4 linked regions of the Homo sapiens genome follow. The protein of the gene in region 2 purifies or fractionates together with the protein of the main gene of each other region. This does not show direct contact. Each region holds a gene or a part of one and is shown on either strand. Other genes may lie near its edges.

Region 1 (4,643 bases), on a different chromosome or scaffold from region 2:
GAACGGTCTTGATCTCTTGACCTTGTGATCCGCCCGCCTCGGCCTCCCAAAGTGCTGGGATCACAGGCGTGAGCCACCGTGCCCATCCGGCACCAAAGCTCTTTAAAAAAGTCCAACAACAATGTTTTAAACTCGGCAGGTTAGGTGACATCCATTTCTATTACTTACACTTTGCACTTGCTACTATTACTATTATTATGACTACTATTTTGCATATACTCAATTTTTAATAAAGTAATTTAAGAAGCTGACATACTAGCTATCCCTCCCCACCAGGAGGACACAGGCTCTTCAGAGAGATGGCCGTTTCCAGGGCAGGCAGGACCCACATCTGCTGGAAGTACAGACTGTTCCAGGACACAGGGAGCTCCGGGAACTCAGGGCATAGCCCAGGACGCAGGTGCCACCTGAAGAGGCTCCAACATCAAGGGGGCCATGGGAGTCCCAAACCAAACAGGAAAGGAGTATGATGCCACAAGGGAACAAAACTTTGCAAATCCACGCTGACTGATGCCACGAGGGAACAAAACCTTGCGAATCCACGCTGACTGATGCCACGAGGGAACAAAACCTTGCGAATCCACGCTGACTGATGCCACGAGGGAACAAAACCTTGCGAATCCACGCTGACTGATGCCACGAGGGAACAAAACCTTGCGAATCCACGCTGACTGATGCCACGAGGGAACAAAACCTTGCGAATCCACGCTGACTGATGCCACGAGGGAACAAAACCTTGCGAATCCACGCTGACTGATGCCACGAGGGAACAAAACCTTGCGAATCCACGCTGACTGATGCCACGAGGGAACAAAACCTTGCGAATCCACGCTGACTGATGCCACGAGGGAACAAAACCTTGCGAATCCACGCTGACTGATGCCACAAGGGAACAAAACCTTGCTGAATCCACGCTGATTAATGCCACGAGGTAACAAAACCTTGCTGAATCCACGCTGACTGATGCCACGAGGGAACAAAACCTTGCTGAATCCACGCTGACAGTAGCGAACACCCACGGGTGTGCATTTTCACGTACATGCCTATCGACAGAAGCAGCCATGGCAGCAGCGCACACGGAGGAGGCACGGCGTGGCCCCAAGGGAAGCTGCCTCCTCCTTGCTGACCTGGTGAAGTGGGTCCTGCTGGCATCAGCTGACCTGGCGGCTCCTCTCAGGCAGGAATCAGGTGGGCGCAAGACTCTGCGGGCAGCCACTAGGGCTGTGGCCGGCCGACACGGGCAGGCATCAGCCTGACACTGCCTTGGCAGAGCCTGAGGACACAGACACCCCTCGGAGCAAAGCTGGTGGCACAGGCAGAGAAGGGTCTCCTGTCAGTGGCAGCTTCGGCCGGGGCCGGGGCCTGGGCTGTGACCATACTCCCCTCCCCTGCAGCAGTGACTTTCTGGACCGAAACACAGCACCTCGGCAACCCTGATCAGTGTCACTGTGTTTGTGTTCAGAGTCCTGAATCCTGATGTCATCTACCCTATTACCGCCCCTCCCAGCTAGGTCTGACACACAGGCTGTACCTGCTGTGCCCAGGTGGCCGACAACGTTGCTGACCAGGAAGTCAGGCGAAAGCCCAGCAGCAGCCGCCGGCCCCGGGCAGGGAAAGCAGCACACAGGCTCCCACCGGGTTACCCACGCTGCTGGAGCTGCTGGAGAGTGCTGTGCTTGACCGCCCGGCCTACACCTTCACTCAGGGTTGACATGAGGTTCTTACATCCGGCCGCTGTACAAACTGTAAAGTACCTGCCCATTTCCAGGACTCAGCTCTTCTCTTCTTCCATCCTCTTTTCTTTATTTTTTATTTTTTGAGACAGGGTCTCACTCTGTCACCCAGGCTGGAACGTAGTGCAACAGTCAGACTCACTGCAGCCACCACCTCCCAGGCTCCAGTGAGTTTCCCACCTCAGCCTCCCAAGTAATTGGGACTACAGACGTGCACCACCACACCCAGCTAATTTTCTTTTTTCTTTTTTTTTTTTTTTTTTTGTGAGACAGAGTCTCGCTCTGTCACCAAGCTGGAGTGCAGTGGCACAATCTCAGCTCTCTGCAACCTCCGCCACCCAGGTTCAAGCAATTCTCCTGCCTCAGCCTCCCAAGTAGTTGGGGCTACAGGTATGCGCCACCACGCCCGGCTAATTTTTGTATTTGTATTTGTATTTTTTTTTTTTTTTGAGGTGGAGTCTCGCTCTGTCACCCAGGCTGGAGTCAGTGGCGTGATCTCGGCTCACTGCAAGCTCTGCCTCCTGGATTCACGCCATTCTCGTACCTCAGCCTCCCAAGTAGCTGGGACTACAGGTGCCCGCCACCATGCCCAGCTAATTTTTTGTATTTTTATAGAGACAGGGTTTCACCATGTTAGCCAGGATGGTCTTGATCTCCTGACCTCGTGATCCACCTGCCTTGGCCTCCCAAAGTGCTGGGATTACAAGCGTGAGCCACCATGCCTGGCCAATTTTTGTATTTTTAGTAGAGACGGGGTTTCATCATGTTGGCCAGGATGGTCTCAATCTCTTGACCTCGTGATTCACCCACCTTGGCCTCCCAAAGTGCTGGAATTACAGGTGTGAGCCACTGCACCCGGCCTTTTTTTTTTTTTTTTTTTTTTTTTTTGTAGAGATGGGGTCTCACTGTGTTGCCCAGGCTGGCCTCAAACTCCTGGGCTCCAGCACTCCGCCTACCTCGGCCTCCCAAGGTGCTGAGATTGCAGGTGTGAGCCACCGTGCCCAGCCCTCTGCTCTTTTCCAAAGATGCTGAGCTGGGCTGGGCACAGTGGCTCATGCCTGTAATTCCACCAACTTTGGGAAGCTGAGGCGGGCGGATTGCTTGAAGTCAGAAGTTCAAGACCAGCCTGGCCAACACAGCAAAACCTCTGTCTCTACTAAAAATGTAAAAAATTAGCCAGGTGTGGTGGTGCATGCCTGTAATCCCAGCTACTCAGGAGGCCAAGGCAGGAGAATCGCTTGAACCCATGAGGCTCAAGAGGTTGCAGCGAGCCAAGATAGTGCCATCGAACTACACCCTGGGTAACGGAGCAAGACTCTGTCTCAAAAAATAAAAATTAAAAAAAAAAAAAAGATGCTAGATGGCTGTCCCTCTCACAGGATGGGCATGTCTTTCATCAGGGTCAGTTTACACAGCCAGGACCACATCACCCATCCAGGATTCGAATCCTTCCCAGTTTGGTTTGAGGACTGTGTTCACTGTAAAGACGGCGAAGGCTGCTCAGGGGCCGAGTGCTTCTGTTTCCACTCTGCCATCTGGGAATATGGGACCAACTCTTCCCTTCACCCTTTCCACAACTCCAGGCCCCCCAGCACCAAGCCCTCTGTAAGCCATGGTCAGAAGACCCTTCCACATGCCCCTGCCACCACCCACCTCATCACCAGCACTAGAACCTGGCTGCTCCTGAGCCCCTCCCATCCCATCTTGCCTGGACCACCTCCCCCTGCTACCTACATGTGCAGCACCCTGGCGGTGTCTGGTCGTGCCCTGGTCTTCCGCCCCATACCCATGGGTCCCTACCTCTCCACAGCGCCAATGCCCTTGTCCCTCCGCTAATTTCTGAAGGACAAACGTCCAGAAATCTCTGCTTTACTCAAAATCCTGATCTCAGCACGAGACAGCCGCGCACTGCCTGTATCAGAGTGCGCCGCCATCCCCAGGTCGGCTCAGAAGCCTCCTCGCTACCTTAGGCTCAAAGTGCGAGTCCACCCTGCTGACATCTGTTTACCTTCACTGCCAAGAGGACTGAAGAGGCCCCTCTTCCACCCAGCTCCTGCCCTGAGGATGCCCACAGCCCATGGTCTTGGCAGCCAGTCCTTCTTCCCACAGCTGCTCCTCTTCCCACCGCCTTCGTAACTTCTGGTCCCTGACACCCGCCAGTTCCACAGTCTGCACATCCTTCTCCCGACCGCCCAGGAAGTCAGCTCAGCCTGACAAGCAGTCTCCCCGCCTTCTCACAGTGGTTCGGCAGCGTTCTCCGCACCAGGATGCTGGACGCCGACACCTTTCCCTGCTTACTCCAAACGCCCGGCGGATGACACCCTGGCTGACGTGGCCCCTGGGCCCCAGAACGGCCCTCGGTGGGGTGGCATCGTACCATGTGCTGCGCAGGGGAGGACTCAGCTGTGATGCAACCCCTTCCTGCTCTACGCCAGCTCGCAGGGGCTCCAGACCAGGGTAGGCGGCAGCTTTTCAGGGACCAGCAGCTTCGCGCCTTCTCAGCTGCAATCTTCAAATAGAACAAGAGGCAAAAGTACCTGCGAGGACCCAGATCCCTCCCTTGTGTCCTTCCCGCCCACCTCTCAGCTCCCCGATGTGGCTTCCTTCCTGAAACACTGTTCAATTTAGCTCATCGTGCAGGCCACAACACGTGTGCTCGACACGAGTCATCTGTGTCCACACCACCCTGCGAGAGACCTGGCTGGCACTGCCGTGCACCTGCCATGCAAGCATTTGCCCTGTTGCCTGTGAGCGCTTAGAGCAAGTGCTAAGGACTGGAGGTGGACATTAACTCACTTGTCCAAAAGTTCTGGCATCTGGCCTCTGGACAAACTTAACATTCAATATTCTACCTACTGACTCAACAGTTTCCTGAAAATTTAAGTAAGGCCATGCCAGTCCAACTTATAA
Region 2 (4,643 bases):
GATACATTTTAAAGAGTGAAATAACAGTTTTAATATATTAATCATAAAAAGTTTTAAATGTTAACATAAATATCCAAGAATTTAACAGTTTTTCTAAAGTATTTTAACAGATTTCTGAAAAAAAATTTTAATTATCATTGCCAAGGTCAGCACTAGGGTGAGGCAAGAAGGCACCTAGAGTGCAAAATTGAAGAAGGTTCTTACTCTCAGGATTCTGCAAGTGCAGCATCAGCACTTAGGGGAACGTAAAAGTGAGTGCCTCCCTAAATTAGGCACCCTAGGATGCTTGCTTATCCTAGTTCCAAACCTGATCACTAGATTATTTAACATGAGAAATTCGCTTGTGAATCATTGACTTTAGAAAAAAATAATTGCAAACATTAATCATTTTTCCATCAACTGCTTTTAATTTGTTTTTTAGGGTGGGATTAAAAACTCAGCCTGAATCAAAATGCCCTGAGCTGCTTGCCAATTACTGTGACATGTTGCTAAGAAAAACACCATTAAGCAAAAAACTAACCTCTGAAGAGATTGAAGCAAAGCTTAAAGAAGTGGTACATGAATTTTTTGTATTTCAACTTTTAAAATTACCTTACTTTGAATTTGTGTTTTGCTTATAGGACTTTCTGTGATAGTATCAATTTAAAAATGTATTATCTGTAAAGAACTAATGTTACGAAGATTTGCAGTGCAAGACCTCTCGGGGGGTTATTTTTCTTTCTGAAAATTTTTATTCTACAGCTTCTTGAAAGGAATACCATTTAATTCCTCTCCTTTCTTGGTTATTTTTAGGAATTAAGTTCTAGCTACTAATACAGGACATATCATTCCAACAAATTTGGAATGATAGTTGACAGATTGGGAGTTTTTCACTCCTTCCTTTTTGTGAGAGTCCAAGATAGATAGCAAGGGATGAATGAGAGTAGATTAAGTAGTTGTTTTCATCTTTGTCACCCAGTTGTTAGTGTAATGATGTAAGCCCAGGAATACAAACAAGAAAAAAAATAAGATATTGGGCAAGTGTAGACAGAAAGGCCGAGAGAGATGACTAGTGTCAGAAAAAAAAGTGAAAAAGATAAGTAGAAGAGACACTTTGCAGGGGGACATTGATTTTTTTCATGTAAAGTATATCGTTGCATTTTATACAAAATCTAAAAAACTGATATTTAGACCGACTAACAATTTGGTTATAGTCTCAGTTTTGCTAACCTTTAAAGTAGTGTATCAGGACTGGGTATTTCTCAGAGATGGATAATTCAGTAGGCCTCTATCTGTATATGCTCATAAAAGTTTCTGACTTGTGACAATTGGTGGATATAGAAAGGTCTAAATTCGAGAGATGGTAAGAGTATATAAGAACTGAAAGTAACTTTATTTTTCATACAGCTCTTGGTACTTAAGTATGTACAGAACAAAGATGTTTTTATGAGGTATCATAAAGCTCATTTGACACGACGTCTTATATTAGACATCTCTGCCGATAGTGAAATTGAAGAAAACATGGTAGAGTGGCTAAGAGTAAGTAAATTTTTTTAAATATTTGGTTTTCTAATACATTACATCATTTATATGTGTGCTTAAGTAATACATTTTGGAGATATTGTTAATGTCAAAGAAGTAGGAAACATTTTATAAGAATATAGCGTCAGTTAGGCCGGGCGCACTGGCTCATACCTGTAATCCCAGCACTTTGGGAGGCCGAGGCAGGTGGATCACCTGAAGTCAGGAGTTCAAGACTAGCCTGACCAACATGGCAAAACCGCGTCTCTACTAAAAATACAAAAATTAGCTGGATGTGCTGGTGCACTCCGGTAATTCCAGCTGCTTGGGAGGCTGAGGCAAGAGAATCACTTGAACCCAGGAGGTGGAGGTTGCAGTGAGCCAAGATCGTGCCATTGCACTCCAGCCTGGGTAACAGAGTGGGACTCCATTTCAAAAAAAAAAGAATATACCATCAATTATATAAAATAAAGTGATATCTAATAAATGTTCTTAATACTTTCAGTAAAGTATCTTTGTTCTTGAGTTGTTTCTACTGTTTCACTCCCATTTGTACCTCAACTCTCATTTAAACTGACCTTATTAATAAATAGACTACAGGGGCTGGGCACGGTGGCTCACACCTATAATCCCAGCACTTTGGGAGGCCAAGGCAGGTGGATCACAAGGTCAGGAGATCGAGACCATCCTGGCTAACACAGTGAAACCCAGTCTCTATTAAAAATACAAAAAAATTAACGAGGCGTGGTGGTGGGGGGCCTGTAGTCCCAGCTACTTGGGAGGCTGAGGCAGGAGAATGGCATGAACCCTGGGGGGCGGAGCTTGCAGTGAGCTGAAATCGAGCCACTGAACTCCAGCCTGGGTGACAGAGCAAGACTCCATCTCAAGAAAAATAAAATAAATAAATAGACTGCAGGACAAATTATTATATCTTTAAGGTATTTTCAGTACTAAATGCTTAACTTTAGAGATGTTTATAAATGATAACAATAAATACTTCTGTATAGCAAAAAGAACCTTTAAATGATGGCCTATTTAGGGTAATCAATGCTGATTATAACTAAATTCCCATATAAAGTATTTTGAGTTCTTTTTTTGTTTTAATTATTAAAGTAAATATCTTTAATTTCTGTGTATGTATATAACTCTCTCCACATATATATGGAGAGAGAGAGAGTGCGAGCAAGCACACACGAGAGAGACCTACAGATATTTTAACTTATAGCTAGCCCTTCGCATGGAACTTTAGGATAGTAAAAATTACTGTGCTAACTGAAACTGCTTAGTAGGAAAAAGAATGATTATTCTGTGACTTTTTAAAACTATTGTCAAAAGACTCAAAACTCTTACTGTCACTTATAAGTATATAGGAAAAAGGGGAAAATAGCAAAACTAATACATATTTACTACGAGAAACCTTTAGAATTAAATTTTCTTTCTTTCTTTCTTTTTTTCTTTTTTTTGGAGATGTAGTCTTGCTGTGTTACCCAGGCTGGATTGCAGTGGTGCAATCTTGACTCACTGAAACCTCTGTCTCCCAGATTCAAGCAATTCTCCTGTCTCAGCCTCCTAAGTAGCTGGGACTACAGGTTTGTGCCATGACGCCTGGCTAATTTTTGTATTTTTAGTAGAGACACGGTTTTGCATGTTGGCCAGGCTGGTCTTGAAATCCTGGTCTTAAGTGATCCGCCTGCCTCGGCCTCCCAAAGTACTGAGATTACAGGCGTGAGCCACCACACCCGGCCTATGTTATTTCTTTGTTAAAAAAAAAATATCAAGACCCAACAGTAAAATGACAAACAAGGCTAGGCATGGTGGCTCACACCTGTAATCCCAGCACTTTGGGAGGCTGAGGAGGGCAGATGGCTTGTGCTCAGAGTTTGAGATGAGCCTGGGCAACGTGGTGAAACCCCATCTCTACAAAAATTTAAAAAATTAGCTGGGTGTGATGGCATGCACCTTAGTCCCAGCTGCTTGGGAGGCTGAGGTGGGAGGATCGCCTGAGCCTGTGAGGTGGAGGTTGCATTGAACAGAGATCTTACCACTGTACTCCTGCCTGAGCAACAGAGTCAGATCCTGTCTCTCTCACTCACACACACACACACACACACACACACACACACACACGACAAATAATTAAAAGCAGGCAAAGGATTCGAATTGACATCTCTTCACAGAAGATAGACAGATGGCCAATAAGTGCATGCAAAGATACTCAACATCATTAGTCATTAGTGAAATGCAAGTGAAATGCTCAACATGTTGGCTCCTGCTTATCCCAAATATTTTGAAAGGCTGAGGTGGGAGGATTGCATGAAGCCAGGAGTTAGAAACTACCCTGGGCAAAATAACAATACTCCATGTCTACAAAAAATACAGAAATCAGCTAGGCATGGTGATGTGTGCCTGTGGTTCTAGCTACTCAGGAGGCTGAGATGGGATGATTGCTTGAGCCCAGAAGTTCAAAGTTGTAATGAGCTGAGATTGTGCCACTGCACTGCAGCCTGGGCAACAGAGTGAGACCCTTTCTCAAAAACAAAAAAAACACAAAGAGATACTACTTTATTCCCACTAGGGTAGCTAAAATAAAGACAGATGATAACAAATGCTAGTAAGGAAGAGGAGAAATTGGAACCTTCGTAAGTTGCTAGTGGAGACATAAGATGGTGCAGACACTTTGGAAAACTGTTGGGCAGTTCCTTAAAATGTTGAACGTAGAGCTGACCCAGCAATTTCACTCTTAGGTAATTCATTTGAAGAGAAATGAAAACATGTTTCATGTAAAAACTTGTAAACAAATGTTCATGGCAAGATTACTAATAATAGTCAAAAAGTGGAAACAACCCAAAATGTCAGTGAGCTAATGAATAAAATGTGATTTATCCATACAATGGAATATTTTTTGTGATAAAAAGGAATAAACTAATAATACATGCTGCAATATTAGGTGAACTTTGAAAACATAATGCTGAGTGAAAGAAGCCAATCCCAAAGACCATATCGTATGATTCCACTAATGTGAAGTGTCCAGAATAGGCAAATCCACAAATTCCAGGAGTTGGGGCCAGGAGGGGAAATGACGAGTGACTGTAAATAGTATGGGGTTTCTTTTTGGGGTGATGAAAATGTTCTAAAATTAGATA
Region 3 (5,295 bases), on a different chromosome or scaffold from region 2:
GTGAATAACAGGCATTTCCTTCCACCTGCAGGACGCTAAAACCACACTGGATTCGCTGCATTATCCTTCAATGTCTCCTCCCCTGACTCCCTCATCACTCACCCAATTATCTGCTACCCCGACTCCTCCCTTGCCCCTGGTCCACCCCAAAGGCTATGGCCCAGGGAGCATGGGGAGGGTCCCCCAGTCCCACCCTCAAGGCACTGTGGGAGCTCAGGCCCTGACTCAGGACCCCTGAGCTCTGATCCTGCATCCTCCCTGTCTCAGTTAAGGGACCTGAGGGACGCTTTTCACCCTAAATCACCTAAGCCTCAGTTTCCTTAGGACAGCAGGCAATGTCTCCCAGGGCTGCCGAGTCGAGGAGGAGGATAGAGGTACTGTTTTGCCCATAAACATGCTTCCTAAGCCTTTGTAACTTGCTAATTTCCTCTGATACTTCCATTGGCCCTAAATAGGCTTTTCTGGTGTGTCAACAGGCCCTCTTTGAATTCCTATTTTAGGATAAAATAGCCGCCCACTCCAAGTAACTCTCTACCCTTTAGAAATGCCCTGGACTGCTACCCTAGTGGATTCTCCCTCTCCCCGCTCTGACACTGAAATCAAGAGCGATAGAGCTGTGTTTCTGATTAAACACGGAGGATCTTCTCTGCCCCTCAGCAAAGATCTCACTCAACTGAGAGTACCTGGATGGGGAGACATAAATCCATATAAACAAGTAGAAAACAAACAGGCTGGGGAGTGATTTCCAGACCATCGGGGGAGCTGGAGAGCAGGCTGGTGCAGTGGCTAACCAGGATACAGAAGGCGGGCTTGGCACCCGGGGTTGGGACCAGCAAAGAGCAGGGAATCTGAACTACCCCTGGGAGGGCACTGAACGCAAAGGGATGCGCAAATCCCCATAAACAACAGGAAGACACCCCTGCCCCACCCCCACCCCGGCTTCCCAGAGCAGCAGCAGGCAGAGCTGGAAGACCCAAGGCTGCAGGGCACACGTCTCCAAACACTGAACCAGGAGAGAGAGAACACAGGACTCATTGCTTACCTGAGGGGCCTAAGAAGACTGTCTGGGGATAAATTAGGGATTAGGCATGGAGAACACCGAACCCACAGGTAAACAAAAAGAACACCCGCCATGTCCAAGAAAAGCAAGACATTACACAAAAAGAGAAACATAGTCCCCACATAGCAAGTGGCTCAGCTGCAATATTCACAGTCACAATAATGTCAACACTGAAATCTGATTTAAACAAAAACAATTCTACTGGAGGACCCTGGGGGGAACGTACGGGGGAGTGGGGGAGCAGCCAGTAGGTTAGAGGTTCATCTACCACAGAAGGACGTCCATAGGGAATGCAGAATTTCTTTATTTCTTTATTTATTTATTTTATTTATTTTTGAGACGGAGTCTCACTCTGTCGCCCAGGCTGGAGTGCAATGGCATGATCTCAGCTCACTACAACCTCTGCCTATCAGGTTCAAGTGATTCTCCTGCCTCAGCCTCCCCAGTAGCTGAGATTACAGGTGCCCGCCACTATGCTTGGCTAATTTTTGTATTTTTATTTATTTATTTTGAGACAGAGTTTTGCTCTTGTCACCCAGGCTGGAGTGCAATGGCCCAATCTCGGCTTACTGCAACCTCTGCCTTCCAGGTTCGAGTGATTCTTCTGCCTCAGTCTCCCAAGTAGCTGGAACTACAGGCACCCGCCACAATGCTCGGCTAATTTTTGTATTTTTAGTAGAGACGGGGTTTCGCCATGTTGGCCAGGCTGGTCTCGAACTCCTGACTTCAAGTGATCCACCTGCCTCGGCCTCCCAAAGTGCTGGCATTACAGGCATGAGAGACTGCGCAACAGCCCAAAACCTAAATGTTTTGGTCGCGGTACACCACACATCCAGAATTTGAGGTCAGAATGTTAAAATTGTCTAAAGCTCCTACGGTTCGCCTCTGGTGCTGCTGGAATGGCAGTATTGTTTTGGATCCAACACATTCAGCTTATTCATTACACTGGGAATAAAAAACATCAGCAGAACTTATTTGGGGAGAAATATATTAAATAAAAAATGACAATGTCAAAAATACCAGTGAACCTCAAAAGTTGCGGATTCATTAGTTTAAAATGTGCCTTTCTTCTACAGATGCATTCCATAACAAACGATGCAGAAGACATGCTCAGAAGTGATGCCATGAACAGAAATATTAAAATATGTGTTTAAATAAGCTTCTGCCGTTAGCTATTCACTGCTTACTCAATTAAGCTAATCAAATGCAGATCACAGTGTCAGGGTCAAAGTCTTGTGCTTGCCTGGACTGGAATGCCAAGTAAAAACACATGCTTATTAGATACCTTTGATCATGTCAAAGGTGGTTATTTTGCAAAGTCAATTAAAATATCTTTGCCTTGCTATGACTGCAACTTCCTCTTCAGCTAAATTTACCCTTAAGACTTTTCCCTCTTAGGTGCACTACTGTTTTTACCAGGATGAATATGCTTTAGATTTTTTTTTTCTTTTTAGGCTTTCATAGTGCTTCCGTCGCTCATTTCAGTGACCATATTATTGCTTCATAGGCAGCAAAAAAATTTGCTTCCCCAAAGAGTGTCCTTCCCTCAAATCCATTTCATTCTTGGGCTGCTCGGATTTTGGTAAAGTAGGCTGCGAACTGGGATGGCACTTTTCGGAGTGTGCCGGGGTGCCCCAAGGCCACCTTCACTGGAGCGGAGTCGGGGTCACGCGGACGCCTCTGCAGGATGCTCGGACACTGCGCCACGGCCTCACCCGCGCCAGTGGAGGGGGGTTTAGCTCTTACCGTGGGCTCGCGCCTGGCTTCCCCGAGAGGGAGCACCGTGGGCGTTTCCCAGGCTCTCCCCCGCCACTGGGCAACGGCCCCGCACGCGTCCCGCACCTTCCCCAGGGCGCGCGGCGCTCGGTGGGTTTGCGGTTGCGAAACCCCACACCTGGCGAGCCGCACGGACTGCAACCCCGCAGTGCGCTGGCCTGGGACAAGGCACCAGACATGAGAGCCCGTCTGGGATGCGCGGCACCACTGGGACCCTGCTTTCACCGCGGCCCACCCCGCCAAACGCCCCCGCCCACGGAGCCAGCGCGGGGCGCGCCACCACCTCCCCGGCGCAGGCCATCGGATACGCGGCCGGCCTCAGGAGCCGGCGCCGCTGCCTCGCTCTGACCTCCGCGGCGCCCGCACGTACCCACGTCGCCCAGGAAGCAGCCGTCCGCCGCCCGGGGCTCCATGCGGCTCACCGGCGGCCGCGCGGCGACTCTGGGCGCCGGGACCTGGGCCGGGCCGCGCGGGGCCGCTGGGCGGGGCCAGTCTGCGCTGGGCCGCGCGTCGTCCCGAGGCGACCGAGCCGGGAGTTGTAGTTCCCGCCGCCTTGGCGAGGTTCCCGGAGGCGCTGTCCCTGGGTCCGGACTCCGCTGTCGCTGCCCACCCCGCTTCGCCCGTCGCGCCGAGGAGTGTGTGTGCTTGCATCTGCAAACCGTGCGTCCCGTGCACAGAATACGTCCGGTGCAAAACGTGTCCTGTGCACTTGTCCTATGTAAACGTGTGTGTCCGTGTGCAAAACATGCATCCTGTGCATATGTCCTGTGCAAAACATGCGTCCGTGTGTAAACTTGTATCCATTGTAAGCATGCTTCCCTGTGTCCCTTTGCAAAGCATGGATATGTGTTTCCATGTGCAAAACATGTGTCCTGTACAAAACATGCATCCTGTGCATGTGTCCTGTGCAAGCGTGTCCTGTGCAAGCGTGTGCAAAACATGTGTCCATGTATAAACATGTATGTATTGCAAATGTGTCCTGTGCAAGCATGTGTCTGTGTCCACGTGCAAAGCATGCGTCTAGCTTCCAGAGTTCACTTGCATTGTACAGATGCTGATGATGCTCCAGAGTACTCGAGTTCCCCCATGCTTTAACTTTCAAGAACCGCTTCCCACCAGAGCCGGTGTTCATAATCACTGTTTCTTTGATCTTTCAAGATAATAATTTCAAATCGTTCAAATCAATTTCTTAATGCCTTTTCTTTACGGGTGGTTTTTAATCCAATGTTCCCCTAAGCTGCTTAGCAAATGGAAGCTGGGGCACAACCTGGCAGAAATGAAAAACCTGTTTCCTGTTTCCGGAATAATACCCAGTCAACAATTGAGTAAGGGATTTTTATTTTATTTATTTATTTTTGCAAAGCAGCTTCCCAAGTTTAGAAGGTTTAACCTTGTGAAAGTTCACTGTAGCCCTGTCAGGAGATTCGTCACTCACCTGACCTGTACTGAACCTCCATGCAGAAGTTAGTTTGGGCTCAAAAGTAAAAGTATCAGGAATCATCCAGTCTGGAAATAGGTGAGGCCTGGCAGAGCAGCCAGTTTGATCTCTCACACTACAAAGCTTCTGGGATGACCCAGGTCTCCATCTGCAGTCCAGACCGAAGGCACTATACCTAGGGGACATTGAACCATATCTTTTGGAAAGCAGAGCCCCTGGAAATGTGGAGCCCCAGGCCTGGGAATGGAATTTCAAGCCATTTGCACTGGGCATTTAGAGCCTTTTTGCCACTTTCTACCAAAATCAGGCTCCTGCATTTTTCTTGCCGGTTTTCTGCACTTTTTACTAAATGTAACAGATTTTTGTATCGTTATATTTACCATGGATGTTATGTTTTCCCCTGTGGCAATGTCGTGTTTGTATGATTGCATTTTCTTCAATATTTCTTCCTGGACGAAGTGTCATCTAAATTTTAGTATGATCATGTAGAACATATATATATATGTGTGTGTGTATATATTCATATGTGTATGTGTGTTATCCAAGTGTTTCCTAAACATATTAATAAGCAAGTATTTGCTTATTATTTGTTTTTCCTCCATTCTGTTGCTTGACCAAAATATTAAAAGATTTCATTACAGAAAAAGCTTTGCAAAGTTTACATATATATTCAGAAATGCATTCCCTGAAAGTATTTCCTTTTTCTTCAATATTTAGAATGTATTTCCCCAGCAAGAGCCAGAAAATATAAATTATTCTGTTCTGTTCTGTTGTTGTTGCTAAGTCTTTGAGTCCCATCTGGAATTCACTGCAATGTGTAGAATGAAAATATAGGAGCTCAGTTCATTCTTTTCTAAACTGAAATAGAGTTTTTCCAAAAATATTCATTAAATAGTAATCCACTTATCTATTTTTGTGTTAATCTCTTTTTATTGCATGTTGGTTCCAATTACCTTTTGAATCTATTGTAAGAACCTCTATGATATTGACAAAGTTTCTATTACTCATTTAGCAAATATTT
Region 4 (4,643 bases), on a different chromosome or scaffold from region 2:
AATTTGCCATTTGCCGAGGCTAAACCAGTTTATATCCACTTTAGCAATGTATGAGTCTGTCTTCTGTTCCACACATTCTCCAAGCATGCGTTATCCATTTTTTTGACCTTTAATAAGCTGATAGACAAAAATGGCATTTCAATGGAGTTCTAACTCATTTCTTTTTCAGTATACATTGAGTATCTTTTCAAAGGAACCATTTGTTTTTGTGTAAACTGTTGATATCTTTTCATATTTTGTACTTGTATTCATTTGTAGGAGTTTGACATATATTTGTTGGTAATTTGTGTTGCAAATTTTTTCTTATGTTAAAACAAGTCTAACTTCTTTTACAAGTGCTTTCAGCTACACCGTTTTGTTATTTCCCATTTTCATTTCTTGTTTTACATATTTCTGTCTTCTCCCCCATTAAATGATTATATGGTTTATGTTTTATGTGTTTTTAAAAATTTAGTTACTTATGCATTTAAAGTATATTTAGTGATATGTGAAAATGCAAATTACATAATTTTTAGGTGAAATAATCTAAATAAAGGCCCATTATACCAATTTTTAAAAAGAAAATTCATTATAATTTATAGACCAAAAAAAAAGAGAGAATAAAGCAAAATTCCTCCAAAAGCTGACAATGTTTATATCTGGTTAATGAGATAGGAGAAAGAGGTGAATTCTAGTTTTTGTCCTTTTTTTGTATTCTCTAAAATTTAGACATTTATTTAACCTTTTCTAATTAATGAGCTTTATTTCTTCAGAATAGTTTTAGATTTAAAGAAAAACTAAACAGATAGTACAGAGAGGTCCCATATGCTCACTCCATTTATCACCCTAGTTTCCCCAATTATTAGCATCTTACATTAGTATGGCACATTTATCACAACTAATGAACCAGTATTGATACATTATTATTAACTTATTTTAATAATTAATATTAATAATTGTTATTAACATATTTTTTCAGATTTCCTTTTTTTCTCAGATTTCAGTTTTTACCTAATATCCTTTTTCTTCTCTTTCTTTCTTTTTCTTTCCTTTTCTTTCTTTCTTTTTTTTTTTTTTTGAGATGGAGTCTCCCTCTGTCACCCAAGCTGGAGTGCAGTGGCACGATCTTGGCTTACTGCAACCTCCACCTCCTGGGTTAAAGCAGTCCTCCCACCTCAGCCTCCAAAGTAGCTGGGACTACAGGCGTGTGCCGCCACACCTGGCTAATTTTATTTTTTTAGTAGAGACAGCATTTCACCATGTTGGCCAGGCTAGTCTTGAACTCTTGACCTCAAATGATCCACCTGCCTTGGCCTCCCAAAGTTCTGGGATTACAGGTGTGAGCCACCAAGCCCAGCCCCTAATATCCTTTTTCTGTTCCAGATCCCATCCAGGATACCACATTATGTGGAATTGTTAGGTCTCCTTAGGGCCCTCTTCACTATGATGGTTTCTCAGACTTTGGTTCCGATGACCTTGCCGGTTAGGTCAGGTATTTTGTGGGATGGCCTCCAGATGGAATTTGTCCTTTGTTTTTCTCATGATTAGAGTGAGGTTATGGGTTTTGGGGAAGACACCCAAAGGAAGATTTCATTATATCATATCAAGGGTACACACTATCAACATGATAGATTAATATAATAGTAATATAATAATATAACATAATATAATATGATACATTACATGATTAGCTTTAATAGTTTATATGTTTTATTGATTTTGTTTTGTTTTTGTGGTAGTTTTTCCCAAAGAACCATCTCTTTAGTTTTTGCTTAGTTCTATTATTTCCCTATTTTATTATGCTCCATTCATTTTTTAAAATTTAATAGCATAAATATATCAGCCATGATTTCCTCTGAGAACTGCTGTAGAGGCACCCCGCAGGTTCTAGTATGTGGAATGCTTTTTGTTATTGTTGTATTCCAGATATTCTGCAATTTCTATATGGATTTCTTTTTTGATCTGAGTTGGGGTCAAGTTGTTTAAAGAATTTTTTAAAATGCCTAAGTGATAGGATTTTGTGATCTATAATTTTGTGATTAATTTCTAGTTTTCCTTCTGTGTTATCAGATACTGTATTATTTTTGCTTTTTTTGAAGTTTTGTTTGTGACCTAATATACAGGAAAATTTTTTTGATCATTCCATGAACACTTGAAAAGAACATGCATTCTTTGTTTTCAAGGTATAGAATTTGATGAACACATTAGTTAGATCTGTCTTATTAATTATGTAATTTGGTTTTTCTATGTCTTTACTTAATTTTGGTCCACTGGTCCATCATGAGCTAGAAGAGGGAAATTAAAATTACATGCCTCTGATGTGTGTCTGTCTAAGGCCCCTCCTTATATTTCCTCTAGCTTTTGCTCTGAATTTTGGTGCTATTTGGTGAGTTCGGTCTTCAATTGTGGATCGCATTCTTTATTATTATTAAGTATTCTTGTCTCACTTAAAACCTTTTGTCCTGAAATCAACTTTACTTGCCTAATATTAAGATTACAGTGCCTGCTTAGTTTGAGTTCACACTTCCCTGTTATGTGTTTGCCCTTCCTTTATTTTCAAAATTGTTAAATCACTTTGCTTTGGGGAATGTCTCTTATATGTAGCATATGGTTGGGGGTTTTGTGTTTTTCCCCAGTCTTATAATCTTTTTTTAGCAGTTTACTATGGCCATTTAATGACATGGTCAATATTTCGGTCTTAGTTTTACTATCATATTTCATGCTTTTATGCCTTTTTGCCTCTCTTGCTTTCTAACAAAATCTTTCAGTATATGATCTGTTTTATTTTGTATTATGTTCAAGGTTTGTATCTGCAAGATGTGTATTTTTATTTTTAGTTCTGGAGGTTACCTTTATAACTAGCCAAAATGGATTTAATCTTTTGTTGAGACCATGCTAGGTGTCTCCCTTCTGAAATAATCAATCACAAAATTAGTTTACAAATTTGGTTCCCATTTTTATCTGCTTTGTGGCAGCTTTTTTCAGGTGAGTTTGCTTGGTTTGCCATGTTTTGTCCTGTTCGTTTATTCCTTTCTTTCTTCTATAGCATCTTTGACTATATCCTGTGCTGGTTCCTCTTTGAAAGAGGTAAACCTTCTTGGATCAGCATTTTGCAGGAGACACATGTGGAGGAGGTACCAAGAAGAGGGCAGGATTGCTCCCTGGTTCCCAGGAACTTTGTTCACAGGGTTGTTGTAGTGACTTCCTTTAGTCTTTGCTTCTACTCTGTCAGCAGAGTTCTGCAGCTGTGGGCTTCTCCCAATTCAGAGCCCTCCTCTCACTCTGCCTTGCCAACACACTGCTTCCTGTGAAGATGGCGGGTCTGTGGTTTCCTCTGTTGGCCCTGCCCTCCTCTTCCCCCAGGGTGTAGGAGGCAGCTCCCACTACCAGACCACATGCCCTGTTCCCATTTTTTCTGATAAGGGATCATTAGTTTTTTCCTTCAGGGAATGCCAGCTCCTGGCTGGCTCTGCCAGCTTTGTCTGAGATCTGCCACCACAGGTGTCTTCTCTAGGTGTTTTCTCACAGTATTTTTGATCTTCACTGCTTTTGGTAGCCCTTACCTGTTTTGGGCAGCCTTTCCTTATAAGCTGTGTTTCAGGTTATAAATGTGTTCTAGTTTGCTGAAGAAGGAGTTTGCATTTCTTTTTTTCTCCTGGATTTTGGGTGATTTCGGATATGAAAAGGAGTAACTTTATTCTGCTATCTTAAAACTGCCTAGTGTTGCAAATTGTTATGTGTTCTGGTATTCCCTCAGATTGAACATTAGCCAGAGCTCTCGGAATAGGGTCAACATCTGCTGAAGCTGGGATCTGACAATAGAGAGGGAAGAGTATGAGAGTTAAGAATAAAATGGAATGGTGAAAAACCCACAGGATACTTGTCTGTGCTGTGTGGCAGCAGAGTTCTTTTCGTCCCTACCTGGACTTTGGCTAGGGGTGTACCACTGTCTGGGTGGGAGGTTGAGGCTGGGGAGGGCAGGGCATGAAAAACACCCATCCATCTCCTCATCTGGCTCAGGAGAAGTTGTTCTAGGCCCAGCAGCTCTCAGGCCAGGGAGGGGAGGGCACACGCCTCTGCTCTGGACAGGGCTTGGCTCTCCATCTCTCTCCATACCCAGGGCCCGTCCAAGTAGTCCGAGCTCCTTGGGTTCTGTCTGGTTTCCTAGTGATGGTGGCCAATTCCTTCTCCATGAAAACCAGGATCCTGTCTCAGGGAAGGCAGTCTGGGGTCAGTGCTGTTAATGGTATTTACCTGATCGAACAAAGAGCTCACCCATCCAAAGGGAGGGGATCCACATGGGATGCCCAGAGAACAGAGCCAGAGAGGAAAACCTGTCGGCAGAGTTCCAGGACCCTTTATATTATGGTCTCTCAAGTTCCCCCATCACCAGAGGGAGGTGTTTTATCCTCATGTTTTTTACTGGCAAGAAATCTGGAGTATCCAAGAGGCTAGGAGGCTTTCCTGTGGACCCACAGTAGGAGATGGAGAGAGGGATTTGGACGCAGTTCTGTCTGGCTCCAGAGCCTGGACACCGGCTCCCTTATCCTTCCTCCTCACCTCTATTGACCTCCATTCACCTTCCCATGGAGCTCTCACCCCATCTTCCCACGCTGCCTGATGTCCATGTCCCTGGTGACCCTGCTGCACCTTGTTCTGTGTCT

What was found.
Region 1: the proteins of CUL5 (region 2) and RAB40C purify together in Homo sapiens (affinity purification with mass spectrometry; 6 studies listed by BioGRID and IntAct, with this or other methods). This does not show direct contact.
Region 3: the proteins of CUL5 (region 2) and ASB13 purify together in Homo sapiens (affinity purification with mass spectrometry; 5 studies listed by BioGRID and IntAct, with this or other methods). This does not show direct contact.
Region 4: the proteins of CUL5 (region 2) and SPSB4 purify together in Homo sapiens (co-immunoprecipitation; 5 studies listed by BioGRID and IntAct, with this or other methods). This does not show direct contact.

Annotation. Positions count from the first base shown.
Region 1 is NC_000016.10:595,916-600,558, reverse strand, and holds part of RAB40C (ras-related protein Rab-40C), read right to left. Parts: intron 1-4,643. UniProt on the Homo sapiens protein: RAB40C small GTPase acts as substrate-recognition component of the ECS(RAB40C) E3 ubiquitin ligase complex which mediates the ubiquitination and subsequent proteasomal degradation of target proteins.
Region 2 is NC_000011.10:108,088,106-108,092,748, forward strand, and holds part of CUL5 (cullin-5), read left to right. Parts: intron 1-421; coding exon 422-554; intron 555-1,386; coding exon 1,387-1,518; intron 1,519-4,643. UniProt on the Homo sapiens protein: Core component of multiple cullin-5-RING E3 ubiquitin-protein ligase complexes (ECS complexes, also named CRL5 complexes), which mediate the ubiquitination and subsequent proteasomal degradation of target proteins.
Region 3 is NC_000010.11:5,663,303-5,668,597, forward strand, and holds the start of ASB13 (ankyrin repeat and SOCS box protein 13), read right to left. Parts: upstream 3,294-5,295; 5' UTR 3,250-3,293; coding exon 3,207-3,249; intron 1-3,206. UniProt on the Homo sapiens protein: May be a substrate-recognition component of a SCF-like ECS (Elongin-Cullin-SOCS-box protein) E3 ubiquitin-protein ligase complex which mediates the ubiquitination and subsequent proteasomal degradation of target proteins.
Region 4 is NC_000003.12:141,060,697-141,065,339, forward strand, and holds part of SPSB4 (SPRY domain-containing SOCS box protein 4), read left to right. Parts: intron 1-4,643. UniProt on the Homo sapiens protein: Substrate recognition component of a SCF-like ECS (Elongin BC-CUL2/5-SOCS-box protein) E3 ubiquitin-protein ligase complex which mediates the ubiquitination and subsequent proteasomal degradation of target proteins.